Homo sapiens: one gene and its partners. The protein of the gene in region 2 interacts with the protein of the main gene of each other region in a pairwise test. Each region holds a gene or a part of one and is shown on either strand. Other genes may lie near its edges.

What was found. Proteins that work in one complex are often made in the same cells at the same time.
Region 1: the proteins of CTNNA3 (region 2) and GINS3 interact in binary tests that used the Homo sapiens proteins (3 or more experiments, as listed by UniProt).
Region 3: the proteins of CTNNA3 (region 2) and ANTKMT interact in binary tests that used the Homo sapiens proteins (3 or more experiments, as listed by UniProt).
Region 4: the proteins of CTNNA3 (region 2) and ZGPAT interact in binary tests that used the Homo sapiens proteins (3 or more experiments, as listed by UniProt).

The regions. Positions count from the first base shown.
Region 1 is NC_000016.10:58,395,471-58,398,970, reverse strand, and holds part of GINS3 (DNA replication complex GINS protein PSF3), read right to left. Parts: intron 1-3,500. UniProt on the Homo sapiens protein: Required for correct functioning of the GINS complex, a complex that plays an essential role in the initiation of DNA replication, and progression of DNA replication forks.
Region 2 is NC_000010.11:65,915,196-65,918,695, forward strand, and holds part of CTNNA3 (catenin alpha-3), read right to left. Parts: 3' UTR 1-3,500. UniProt on the Homo sapiens protein: May be involved in formation of stretch-resistant cell-cell adhesion complexes.
Region 3 is NC_000016.10:719,711-723,090, forward strand, and holds ANTKMT (adenine nucleotide translocase lysine N-methyltransferase), read left to right. Parts: upstream 1-1,435; 5' UTR 1,436-1,564; coding exon 1,565-1,726; intron 1,727-1,887; coding exon 1,888-1,992; intron 1,993-2,090; coding exon 2,091-2,231; intron 2,232-2,373; coding exon 2,374-2,424; intron 2,425-2,598; coding exon 2,599-2,847; 3' UTR 2,848-2,880; downstream 2,881-3,380. Other genes in the region: CCDC78 (coiled-coil domain-containing protein 78), read right to left, coding at 2,968-3,079, 3,212-3,380.
Region 4 is NC_000020.11:63,711,039-63,714,538, reverse strand, and holds part of ZGPAT (zinc finger CCCH-type with G patch domain-containing protein), read right to left. Parts: intron 1-3,500. UniProt on the Homo sapiens protein: Transcription repressor that specifically binds the 5'-GGAG[GA]A[GA]A-3' consensus sequence. Represses transcription by recruiting the chromatin multiprotein complex NuRD to target promoters.

The sequences.
Region 1 (3,500 bases), on a different chromosome or scaffold from region 2:
CAACAAAACAATTAACAAATGAGCTAATTTACACATACGGATTATTTATTGCACACTATGACTTCCCATAGACATCTTTTCAAGTCCACACAGAATGGTTAAATTGGTCTTATGCTTTGCCATAGAGCAAGTCTCAGCAACTTTCAAGACTGAAATCATGTAGACTATGTTTTCTGGCCACGGTGGAATTAAGCTAGAAATAAAAAATGGTAAATGACCAAATCTCAAAATGTTTGAAATTAAGCACTAGTCTTCTAAATACCTACAGGTCAAAAAAGAAATCACAATTAAACAGTATTTTAAACAGTATTTTAAAACGCAAAATTAAACAGTATTTTAAAATTTTTATTTATTTTCTTTTGAGACAGTATCTTGCTGTGTCATCTAGGCTGGAGTGCAGTGGTGTGATCACGGCTCACTGCAGTACTGACCCTCCAAGGCTTAAGTGATCCTCTTGCCTCAGCCTCCTGAGTAGCTGTGACCACAGGTGTGTGCTACCATGCTCGGCTTTTTTAAAAAATTTTTTGTAGAGATGGGGACTCACTATGTTGCCTAGGCTGGTCTCGAACTCCTGGGCTCAAGTGATCCTCCTGCCTCCACCTCCCAGTGTTGGGTCTATAGGTGTGAGCCACCATGCCTGGCCTAAAAAGTATTTTTAGTTCATTGATAATGAAAATATAACACATCAAAACTTATGAAACGCAATTAAAGTTGTGAATTGAATAGAATAATTTCACTTAAAAGAAATGAATAGCTATGAATGTATAAAAGAAGATTGAAAAATTAATGACCTAGGTTTCCATCTCAAAATGTGTATCTGTGTGTGTGTGTGTGGTGGGAGAATTAAGCCCAAATAAAGTAGAAGGAAAGAACTAATTAAAAAATTAATGACCTAAAAAACAAAGGTACAAAAGAGAAAACCAACAGAGTCCTAAGTTAGTTCTTTTAAAAGAATAAAAAAATTGATAGACTCCTGGCAAGGGTAATCAAGAAAGGGAGAACACAATTTATTGATATTAAAAATAAAAATAAGGACACCACTGTAATCCTACTGACATTAAAAAGATAGTAAAGGAAATTCTGAACATTGTACTGATACCATTGAAAATTTAGACAAGCTCTCCCTCTCCCTTTCCCTCTCCCTCTCCCCACGGTCTCCCTCTCCCTCTCTTTCCACGGTCTCCCTCTGATGCCGAGCCGAAGCTGGACTGTACTGCTGCCATCTCGGCTCACTGCAACCTCCCTGCCTGATTCTCCTGCCTCAGCCTGCCGAGTGCCTGTGATTGCAGGCGCGCGCCGCCACGCCTGACTGGTTTTCGTATTTTTTTGGTGGAGACGGGGTTTCGCTGTGTTGGCCGGGCTGGTCTCCAGCTCCTAACCGCGAGTGATCCGCCAGCCTCAGCCTCCCGAGGTGCCGGGATGGCAGACGGAGTCACGTTCACTCAGTGCTCAATGGTGCCCAGGCTGGAGTGCAGTGGCGTGATCTCGGCTCGATACAACCTCCACCTCCCAGCTGCCTGCCTTGGCCCCCCAAAGTGCCGAGATTGCAGCCTCTGCCCGGCTGCCACCCCGTCTGGGAAGTGAGGAGCCTCTCTGCCTGGCTGCCCAGTCTGGAAAGTGAGGAGCGTCTCTGCCCGGCCGCCATCCCATCTAGGAAGTGAGGAGCGTCTCTGCCCGGCCGCCCATCGTCTGAGATGTGGGGAGTGCCTCTGCCCTGCTGCCCCGTCTGGGATGTGAGGAGCATCTCTGCCCGGCCGCCCCGTCTGAGAAGTGAGGAGACCCTCTGCCTGGCAACCACCCCGTCTGAGAAGTGAGGAGCCCCTCCGCCCGGCAGCTACACCGTCTGGGAAGTGAGGAGCGTCTCCGCCCGGCAGCCACCCCATCCAGGAGGGAGGTGGGGGTCAGCCCCCCGCCCGGCCAGCCGCCCTGTCCGGAAGGGAGGTGGGGGGGTCAGCCCCCCGCCCAGCCAGCCGCCCTCTCCTGGAGGTGAGGGGCGCCTCTGCCCGGCCACCCCTACTGGGATGTGAGGAGCACCTCTGCCCGGCCAGCCGCCCCGTCCGGGAAGGAGGTGGGGGGGTCAGCCCCCCGCCCGGCCAGCCGCCCCGTCCGGGAGGTGAGGGGCGCCTCTGCCCGGCCGCCCCTACTGGGAAGTGAGGAGCCCCTCTGCCCGGCCAGCCGCCCTGTCCGGGAAGGAGGTGGGGGGGTCAGCCCCCCGCCCGGCCAGCCGCCCCGTCCGGGAGGGAGGTGGGGAGGTCAGCCCCCCGCCCGGCCAGCCGCCCCGTCCGGGAGGGAGGTCGGGGGGTCAGCCCACCGCCCGGCCAGCCGCCCCGTCCGGGAAGGGAGGTGGGGGGATCAGCCCCCCGCCCGGCCAGCCGCCCCGTCCGGGAGGGAGGTGGGGGGGATCAGCCCCCGCCCGACCAGCCGCCCCGTCCGGGAGGGAGGTGGGGGGGTCAGCCCCCGCCCGGCCAGCCTCCCCGTCCGGGAGGTGAGGGGCGCCTCTGCCCGGCCGCCCCTACTGGGAAGTGAGGAGCCCCTCTGCCCAGCCAGCCGCCCCGTCCGGGAGGGAGGTGGGGGGGTCAGCCCCCTGCCCGGCCAGCCGCCCCATCCGGGAGGTGAGGGGCGCCTCTGCCCGGCCGCCCCTACTGGTAAGTGAGGAGCCCCTCTGCCCGGCCAGCCGCCCCGTCCGGGAGGGAGGTGGGGGAGTCAGCCCCCCACCCGGCCAGCCGCCCCGTCTGGGAGGTGAGGGGCGCCTCTGCCCGGCCGCCCCTACTGGTAAGTGAGGAGCCCCTCTGCCCGGCCAGCCGCCCCGTCCAAGAGGGAGGTGGGGGGGTCAGCCCCCCACCCAGCCAGCCGCCCCGTCCGGGAGGGAGGTGGGGGAGTCAGCCCCCCGCCCGGCCAGCCGCCCCGTCCGGGAGGTGAGGGGCGCCTCTGCCCGGCCGCCCCTACTGGAAAGTGAGGAGCCCCTCTGCCCAGCCAGCCGCCCTGTCCGGGAGGGAGGTGGGGGGGCCAGCCCCCCGCCCAGCCAGCCGCCCCGTCCGGGAGGTGAGGGGCACCTCTGCCCGGCCGCCCCTACTGGGAAGTGAGGAGCCCCTCTGCCCGGCCACCACCCCGTCTGGGAGGTGTACTCAACAGCTCATTGAGAACGGGCCAGGATGACAATGGCGGCTTTGTGGAATAGAAAGGGGGGAAAGGTGGGGAAAAGATTGAGAAATCGGATGGTTGCTGTGTCTGTGTAGAAACAAGTAGACGTGGGAGACTTTTCATTTTGTTCTGTACTAAGAAAAATTCTTCTGCCTTGGGATCCTGTTGATCTGTGACCTTACCCCCAACCCTGTGCTCTCTGAAACATATGCTGTGTCCACTCAGGGGTTGAATGGATTAAGGGTGGTGCAAGATGTGCTTTGTTAAACAGATGCTTGAAGGCAGCATGCTCGTTAAGAGTCATCACCACTCCCTAATCTCAAGTACCCAGGGACACAAACACTGCGGAAGGCCGCAGG
Region 2 (3,500 bases):
ACCTACCATCAGTCAGGAGAATGGCTGAATTTCTGTTTCTCAACTTGCAAACAATATTACTAAATCATGCTCAAAATATGTGTAGTTCATCCTTTTGCCTTCGACACGACTTCACCAAACCACCAAGACAAGTGTCTCATTCTATCCTTAATACTTTCCTCAGGAGGGCTGCCTAATCTTCATAAAACCAAAAAACTCTCCCCTCATCTATGAAAGCTAAATGCTTCTGCAACTACCCCTCTCAGACCCTTCCCTACCTCTGGCACCTTCTTATTTGTTGTGCCTTTAGACTACTCCGTATCGTCTCCATTTTTCTCCAACTTACCAAACTCATATTGAATATCAATCCATGTGTTTTGTTCCCACAAACCAGTGGGGACTGCTAGATGCCATAATGCAGCCAGCAGCCATAAAGCATCTCGTCTCAGAATAAAACTTATGGTCGGCCCCACAGCCCATCTCTTGCCTGCGGATGGGATTCTGGTCAGGTTGAGTTCCATTTGGAGACAGCTCTCTCAATTAACATTACTTTCTTTTAGAGTGTCCAGAAATGGATTCTATCTTGTCTGTTAGGGGGAAAATATTCACATGCAAGAAGACTAGTGTTTTAAACTATTCTTTATTTTGCTTTAATAGAATATATGTTTTTGTTCATATGAATTGGTTAAAAATGCCAAAAAGGTATTTAAAATTTTACTTCTTCTCTTTCTCTTTGAGATGACTAAGATAGCGTTAGTAGCCTCATTCAAAACATTTTTAACTACAACTAGTTTTAATAGCATCCATGTTTTCTTTCCTAATTAAAACCAAAATGCCAAAATAAAAACTCTCAAACTGCTATTGTTATTAGTCCTGGCTTATTTGTTTAGTGGTAAAATGGAAAATACTAATGCTGAACATATCATAATGGTATGGGAAAAGAGTCATAAAGAAAAAAATGGAATTTTCATATAAATAAAAACAGTAACATCTCAGGTGGCAGAAATTTTCCTACTTTACTTAAAAAGAATTATTAAAATAATATAAAATTATATTCTTTTTAACTGAAATATTTCTGGCTTTACAAACAGAAAAAATGAATATTTGATTCCTAAATATACAATAGGCAGGCTGTCTTGGCAAAAAATAGGCCAACAAAAGAAAGTACAGATTTCATTCAAATTCAGATTCTGGTGCCTGCTTTGCCAACCTAAAGAACTACTTACAATGAAAGTGAAAGAGGCTGTTTATTCTGCAATGAGTTCACAAGAGAATGGTGGATATCACCAGGAAAAGTCTCAGATCTTATTCCACTCATACTACCACTATACAAAAATCTGTAGCCATGGGAACCACAATCTCTAGGACAGAAATGAACATTTGATACCAAAATTTAAGAATGTTTTGGGGAATAGAAAGACTAAAGGAATAATGTTGCTGGAAATTAAAATTCATAATTTTGACTAAAACTCTGTAAAATTTATTAGTCAATTTATACCTGGGATAGAGATGAGAGACAGGAGAGAGATATTTTTGGTTCACAGAAGAGGAAAGGGCATTAATTGGAGTAATTTGCTGTGATGGGCAGTCCTGATTGCACTATTTTGGTAGGAAATTGTTAGCAATTAACAGAGGATACCTAGCCCAGAGGTGGGTGAGATGAGAACACCCTCAAAATGAAGGTTCAGGAAGCCGTTGAAGTCACTTACTCTGTTGTTACACATTAGGCTTTTCAGCCACTCATTATTTAATTTGAGGAGCATTAATTATTTGGTCTGAAGGCCCAAGTTGCGCACTTAATTGTATATTCACAATTTTAGCTTGAAATTGAAACCGACTGCCTTTGAAGCTAAAGGTGTTAAGAATGCCAGACTGCAAGAATGGGTGTCTCTGTGTAGCTATGGAGGACCTTATTCCCTGTACATAAGAGATTTTTATGGGGAACAAATATGTTATATTGATCTTATGTTAAAAGATTTCAAAGGCCAGAAGGCACACTTGTGAATGTGAAGGCTATATTGTCTTTTCTAATACATTTGCAATTTGCACTCATATAATAAATAATAAACAGAAAGGAATAATGAACAAATTAGCTTAGAAATTTAGTGTTTGAGTTTTTTCTTGACTCATTCAAGAACTATCCAGAAACTGACTTAGAAACATTTTACTTCAATAATTTTAATTTGTCATAAATTAAAGGGAATGATTTCTATTTCTCACTTTTTATATTTGATAGAAATCTTCAAATTTCTCTAATTAGAAGGCCATTTAGTGGATTATTATTTCGTTTTTTTTTAAATTTTCATTCTAATTCCAGTCTAACATCTGGCAGGGATACTGGTGGGTAACCAGGGATGGAACTGCTCCTGTGGGTGGTAAACACCCCTCTCCTCCCTCTCAAGGAACGTTTTTCCCTATGTAAATTAACACAAATTGATTTCGTTAAAAAGAAAGGTGAGTTCTTATTAGCAGGATCAAGCAAATGTATTATCAGAGGAAGCACTAATCTCTGTGATGAGACATCAAAAGGTACATAGGTGGATCACCAAATTATCACTCTCATTAAGAAATTTCTGGCAATCCTCTGCAGAAGAAATACCTAAATATAAATGTGTCATGCTGATTAGTTTTTAACATAATGGGGAGATTTATTCATATCTTGCTGCTAGTTTTTCTTGCATATAAGCATTTGTTTTATCAGCAGGTTTGAATCAAACTAAATCTTGAAATGCTGCCTACTACAGGAATTCACTCAGGTGGACAGATGCCTTTTTCAGCTCTATGCATCTTGTTTTTATGTCACTATCGATTACCACAGCAGATTAACTCCTAGGATATTCATTGAGTTAAAATTTTTATTGTTTTATTTAATTATAGTTTGCTTTGAGCTAAGCTGAAAATCTGCCTGGGTTAAAGAGGAGAACTTGTTCACATCTCACTTTGGGTAAAAAGTCATTTTTATCAAAGAGATGGAGGTTATTTGGTAATTGTATAATTTCAAGTTATTTCTGTTCTTTTGGTGTCCAATACTGCATGTTCTAAACTCCAACATGTGGAAAGATGATGTTGGGTCCGGTGGACATTAGATTTTCTAAATGAGATGCTTATGATTCTTGTGAATGTGGCTTTAGGAGCTAAGATACACAACTGCTAGTTTGGTGATTTCAAAAAAATTTTCTATACAGCTGGTAGTTTGGTGATTAAAAGAAAATTCCTCTCCCCACTAAATTATAAATTTATACTTCTATCTGGAAGAAGGATATACCACAGATGTCACTCGTGCAACATCTACACTTAGAGCAGAAAATGATGGCAGCATTTCAATAAAAGAAAATCTCTATTTGCCTCAATCATCTAGATAATTCTGAAAAACAGAGTCATCTGAATTCCCTAATTCCCTTCTTCACTGCCTTTTCTTCTGGGCAGTGCATTCTGTTCAGAATAGTTATTGTAGGCCAGTCTATGGTGCAAAACAGGGAGGAGTTTATTGCCTTCACCTCCTAGGAAGTTTTACACTGAGC
Region 3 (3,380 bases), on a different chromosome or scaffold from region 2:
ACTTGAACCTGGAAGGCAGAGGTTGCAGTGAGCCAAGACTGCGCCACTGCACTCCAACCTGGGCGAAAGAGCGAGACTCAAGTCTCAAAAAAAAAAAAAAAAAAAAAAAAAAAAAAAAAAGAAGAGTGGAGAGTGCACGCTAGAGTCCAATTAGGTGCATTCATCCAGTAAGCCTCCTAGGTAACTGCTCTAGGTGCAGGGAATAATGCAGGCAGCAGGACAGGAATGGGCGCTGTCAGCTCCCCCTAGAGCTCAGTGTACATACACCCTTCCTTTCCTGGGAGGGCCGTTCCAGGCCCCCAGGAGACAGGACACGCTGAGCTGGGTGGGGCTGGGGCCAACGTGGGCAGGCCTGTGAGACTCTGCACTTGGGAGCTGGGGGCTGTGGTCTGCGGCATACCCATGTCTGGAAGCAGCCTCTGTCCCTGCAGGGGCTCTAGACCCCAGCCACGGATGGCTAAGGAGGAGCTAGGCCAGGGCACGCATAGACAACCCCCGACATTCACGGGTGTTCAGCCCTACCCTGGGTGTGGAGGTCGTGGCCCAGCTGCCTGACCCAGAGCTCGGCTCTTCCACTTGCGCTTCCCACCCCCAGCTTCACAAGGTCACCTCCAGGAACTCAGTCTTTTTGTGTGTTGTTTTCTGGAGAAGGAAGGTGATCTCCCCACTCCCGGGGCTGTCTGCCTTCCCTGTAGCTGGCAGGTGCCAGAGGCCCCCGCCTGTGACATCCGGCTTTCCTCCCACCACACTCGCCTGAGAGCCAGCATCTGTCTTCTTGGGCCTGCTCAAGCTCTCCTCCGTGTCAGCCCCTCCTCCATGCCCTTCTCCCTCAGACCCCACCCCCCATCCCTTCACCGCCCACTGGGGCTCATCGCTCAGGCTGTAGGAGGGAAATGGAAGGATGTCCTCCCGGGCTCTGGCTGGCGCTGGGTGTCCGAGTCAGCGGAGCGCCCCCAGCAGTCTCCCCGAGGCAGAGTCATGGGGGTGCTGGCGCCTGGACGCTGTCTCATCCCGGGGAGCCGCTTTCCCACCGGCTCCCTGGGCTCCAGCCGCCCCACGCGAGCCCCCGGCTGGTTCTGGGGCCAGGACCGCCCCTCTCCAAGGCAGACTTCCCTTCATTCCACGACAAAGACGCGCAGCCCCGTTTCCCTGGGGCTCTAGCCCGTGAGATCGCCGGGTGTATCCCGACTCCCGCCGGCACGTGCGCTCCCCCAGGGCAGGGCCTGCCTGTCCCCTTCCGCGGGTCGCCAGCAGCCAGCACAGGCCGCAAACGGCGGTCCGCAGAGCGGACCAACGGAGCCGACCCTCGCAGGCTTGGAGCCGGACGCGGCGGGGCAGAGCCCCCGAGGCTGCAGCTCGCCGGAACCCGCGGGAGGGCAGCCGGGCTGGGCGGAGCGCACAGCGCCACGGACCGACCGCGCAGGCTCTGCCGGCCACTTCCGGTGTCGCGCGGCGGCTCCCGGCAGGAGGCAGAGGGCACACCGCCAGCCCCAGGCCAGGCTGCGAGGGCCGCGGACCCGAGCCGGGAAGGACCTTGGGCGGACGAGCCGCGCGTCCCGCAGCCATGGAGCAGGACGACCCGGTCGAGGCGCTGACGGAGCTGCGCGAGCGGCGGCTGGGCGCGCTGGAGCTGCTGCAGGCGGCGGCCGGCTCGGGCTTGGCAGCCTACGCGGTGTGGGCGCTGCTGCTCCAGCCCGGCTTCCGGCGCGTGCCGCTGCGGCTGCAGGTGCGGGGCGGGGCCAGGCCGGGCAGGGGAGCTCGGCTGCCGCTCAGGGTCTCAAGGTCTGGGCGTGGCCGGGGTGAGCTCCGCCCCGCCGTGTGGTAGTTCGGGCCGGGCTGCGGGCGGGGCGGGAGCGGCCAGTGGACTCTCGCCGCCACCCGGTCCAGGTGCCCTACGTCGGCGCGAGCGCGCGGCAGGTGGAGCACGTGTTGTCGCTGCTGCGAGGACGCCCCGGAAAAACGGTGGATCTGGGCTCTGGCGACGGCAGGATCGTAAGTGCCTGCGTCTGGGTCTTCGCCGCCCCACACCGCCCACCTGCTGGCGGGCGCCCCTGCCCACATCCTGGTTCCCACACTCTCGGTGCCCACAGGTGCTGGCGGCCCACAGGTGCGGCCTCCGCCCGGCCGTGGGCTACGAGCTGAACCCCTGGCTGGTGGCGCTGGCGCGGCTGCACGCCTGGAGGGCCGGCTGTGCCGGCAGCGTCTGCTATCGCCGCAAGGATCTCTGGAAGGTAACCTGGGGATCCCTGGCCACCCGCTGACAGCCCAAGGTGCGGCTGACACCTGCGAGGGCTGGGGGCCGGGACTCGGAAGCTGCGATGACCCGGTGCCCACCAGGCCTCTCCCCGGCCGGGGCGACTTCTCTTCCGGCAGGTGAGCCTGAGGGACTGCCGCAACGTGTCTGTGTTCCTGGCCCCTAGCGTGGTAGGTGCGGGGTTGCCAGCCCCGCTGGGAAGCCCCAGCCACACCCCAGGGTGTTTGCTGCTCTGAGGCCTGGGCCTGCCTGGTGGGTGCTAGGCTTGGGGCTAGGGGGGTGAGCGCGGCTGTTTTCTACCGGCCCCGCCCCCGCCCCCTCTACTCTGCTGTTCTCTCCCTCAGCTCCCGCTGCTGGAGGACAAGCTGCGGACAGAGCTGCCTGCTGGGGCCCGCGTGGTGTCTGGGCGCTTCCCACTCCCCACCTGGCAGCCTGTGACCGCGGTTGGCGAGGGCCTGGACCGAGTATGGGCTTATGATGTTCCTGAGGGTGGGCAGGCTGGGGAGGCCGCCTCCTCGCGGATACCCATCCAGGCTGCCCCCGGACCTAGTTCTGCCCCCATCCCGGGGGGCCTTATTTCTCAGGCCAGCTGAGTATTAGACACGATAAAGACTCTGTGGGTTCTATCCTGACTCATGTTTTATGGGGGGCTGGGTGGGAGGGTTCTGTGCTGGCTGAGGAGCTCTGCTCTGCTCTGCTCCTTGGGAGACGGCCTAGTGGCTGCCGGTCCTTGGATGCTGGGGCTTGGCTGGAGGCACAGCCCCCACTTTCCAGGGGTCCCCTGCACCTGCCAGCTTCCTCAGCCTCAGGATTTCGTGCTTGTACCTGCTCAGAGGAACCATGCTTAAGTGACTTGCCCAGCTGTGGACAGGTCTGCTTTTAGCGCCTGAGGCAGCCATCATCCTTCATTCCAACCAGACCAGGGCCCTGGGGTCACACCCAGCTCCCTCTGCCCACCTGCCCAGGTGCTGGTCCACGTACTCCTGTAGCTCAGAAAGTTGCTCTTCAGCCATCGTGGCCCGGACCAGCAGCTGTGCCCGCTCCCGTTCCAGCTCTGCCTGGCATGGGGATGTAAGCCATGAGCTGGGGCATGGCGTGAGGATGGGCCTGGGCCAGCCCTTGCCTC
Region 4 (3,500 bases), on a different chromosome or scaffold from region 2:
GTGAAAGACTAAAAGTTTTCCACCTAATATCAGGAACAAAAAAGTTTTCCACCTAAGATCAGGAACAAGATAAAGATGTTTGTTCTAGCCACTTTTTTTTTTTTTTTTTTTAAAGACAGGGTTCTTGCTCTGTCGTCCAGGCTGGAGTGGAGTGGCATGATCTTGGCTCACTGCAACCTCCGCCCCCCAGGTTCAAGCAATTCTCATGTCTCACCCTCTCAAGTAGCTGGGACTACAGGTGCACATCACCTCACCCAGCTAATTTTTGTATTTTTAGTAGAGATGGGGTTTCGCCGTGTTGGCCAGGCTGGTCTCAAACTGCTGATCTCAAGTGATCTGCCCACTTCCACCTCCCAAAGTGCTGGGAACACAGGTGTGAGCCACCACCCCCGGCCCGCTCTAGTCACTTTTATTCAACATTGTACTTGAAGTTCTAGCTAAGGCAGTTAAGCAAGAAAAAGAAATAAATGCCATGCAAACTAGAAACAAAGACTACAATTATCTCTATTCACATATATATTAATTGTATATATTGAATATATATGATTGTATATATCGAAAATCCTAAATAGTGCATAAAAAATCCTATTAGCACTAATAAACCAATTCAGCAATCAATACAGGATTAACATAAAAAAATCCACTGTATTTCTTTTTTTTTTTTTTTGAGATGAAGTCTCACTCTTGTTCCCCAAGCTGGAGTGCAATGGCGCGATCTCAGCTCACTGCAACCTCCGCCTCCCAGGTTCAAGCAATTCTCTTGCCTCAGCCTCCTGAGTAGATGGGATTACAGGCACCTGCCACCATGCCAGACTAATTTTTGTATTTTTAATAGAGGCTGGATTTCACCATGTTGGCCAGGCTGGTCTCGAACTCCTGACCACAGGTGATCCACCCGCCTTGGCCTCCCAAAGTGCTGGGATTACAGGCGTGAGCCACGGTGCCCAGCTTGTATTTCTATATACTAGCAACAAACAGCCTGAAAATGTAACTAAGGAAAACAACTCCAGCCGGGCACAGTGGCTCACATCTGTAATCCCAGCACTTTGGGAGGCCGAGGCAGGCAGATCACCTGAGGTCAAGAGTTCGAGACCATCCTGGCTACATGGTGAAACCCCATCTCTACTAAAAATACAAAAAATTAGCTGGGCGTGGTGGCAGGCACCTGTATTCCCAGCGACTCAGGAGGCTGAGGCAGAAGAATGGTGTGAACCCGGGAGGTGGAGCTTGCAGTGAGCCAAGATTGGGCCACTTCACTCCAGCCTGGGCAACAGAGCAAGACTCCATCTCAAAAAAAAAAATTAGCTGGGTGTGGTGGCAGGCACCTGTGATCCCAGCTACTTGGGAGGCTGAGCAGAAGAATTGCTTGAACCCGGGAGGCAGAGGTTGCAGTGAGCCAAGATTGTGCCATTGCACTCCAGCCTGGGTGACAGAGCAAGACTCTGTCTCAAAAAAAAAAGGAAAAGAAAAACAATTCCTTAGAGAAGCATCAAAAATAATACTTATTTAACCAAGAATGTGCAAGACTTGAACAGTACAAAATACTGTTGAAAGAAATTAAAGACGTAAATAAATGGACAGATCCTTCATTCATGAATTGGAAGACTTAATACTGTTTTTTTCTTCTGTTATTGTTGTTGTTTAAGATGGAGTCTCCCTCTGTTACCCAGGCTGGAGTGCAGTGGCATGATCTCAGCTCACTGCAACCTCCTCCTCCCAGGTTCAAGCGATTCTCCTGCCTCACCCTCTCGTGTAGCTGGGATTACAGGTGTGCACCACCTCCGACTAATTTGTTTTTTATTTTTAGTAGAGACGGGGTTTCACCACGTTGGCCAGGCTGGTCTTGAACTCCTGACCTCAAGTGATATGCCCGCCTCAGCCTCCCAAAGTACTGGGATTACAGGCGTCAGCCACCACACCCAGCCAGAAGGCTTAATATTGTAAAGATGACAATGTGCCCCAAACAGATCTACACATTCTATGCAATCCATATCAAAATTCAAACTGTCTTTTATGCAGAATTGGACAAGCCGATCCTAAAATTCATATGAAATTGCAAAGGATCCAGAAACAAAACAAACTTGAAAAAGAGGAGCAAATGGTGAATAACTACCACTTCCTGAGTTTAAAACTTATCACAAAGCTATAATAATCAGAACAGTGTGGTACTGGCACATATACACCAATGGAACAGGAGAGAGAGCTCAGAAATAAACCCTTACATATATTGCCAATTGATTTTGGACAAAAGTGCCAAGACCATTCAGTGGAGAAAAAGCAGTCTTTTAAACAAATGGTGCTGGGAAAACTGGAAATCCACATGCAAAAGAATAAAGTGGACCCTCACCTAATAACATATACAAAAATTAACTCAAAATGGATCAAAGACCTAAATTTAACAGCTAAAACTACAGAACTCTTAGAAGAAAACATAGGTGAAAATCCTCATAACTATGGATGAGGTGGTTTCTTAAACCTGATGACAAAAACATAGGCAATAAAGAAACAATAAATTGCACTGCATCAAAATTTAAAATGTTTGTGCATCAAAGGACACTATATCAAGTGAAAAGACAACCCAAACAATGGGAGCAAATATCTGCAAACTATATACTTCATAAGGGATGATATCCAGAATATATAAAGAAATCCTGGGCCGGGTGTGGTGGCTCATGCCTGTAATCCCAGCACTTTGGGAAACCAAGGCGGGATCACCTGAGGTCAAGAGTTCGAGACCAGCCTGGCCAACATGGTGAAACCCTGCCTCTACTAAAAATATAAAAATTAGCTGGGCACCACGTGGTGACAGGCGCCTGTAATCCCAGCTACTTGGGAGGCTGAGGCAGGAGAATCCCTTGAACCCAGGAGGTGGAGGTCATGCCATTGTACTCTAGCCTGGGCAACAACAGTGAAACTCCATCTTAAAAAAAAAAAAAAGGTCCAACGCAAATCCAAGAGAACTTATCAGTCCTGAATGGTGGCAAGGTGGACGTCTGTAAGATGCTCCGGAAGCTTTCAGATCAGGCCTGATGCCGACATGGCAAGCAGCACTGGGTGGAGCAGGGGACGGAACGAGGGCTGGGGGCAACCGGAGCCCTCTGAGCCTTGAAGCCCTGGACCACTCAGTTCTTCTACTCCTGTTTCCTCCTCTGTCAGATGGTGTGACTGCAGGGCCTACCTACAGGGCTGTTGCACAGATGAATGAAAGTATATGAAACCCTTGGAGCAGTGCCTGGCCCAGAGGGAGCACCACAGGGATGTGTCAGATCTCTCATCAAAGGGATCAGGAATTCGAGACCTGGGTAATATGGTGAAATCCCGTCTCTACAAAAAATACAAAAATTAGCTGGGCGTGGCAGTGCACACTTGTAGTATCAGCTATTAGGGAGGCTGAGGTGGGAGGATGGCTTGGGCCAGGGAGGCGGAGATTGCAGTGAGCCGAGATTGTGCCACTGCACTCCAGCCTGGGTGACAGAGCAGCAAGACGCTGTTTCAAAAAA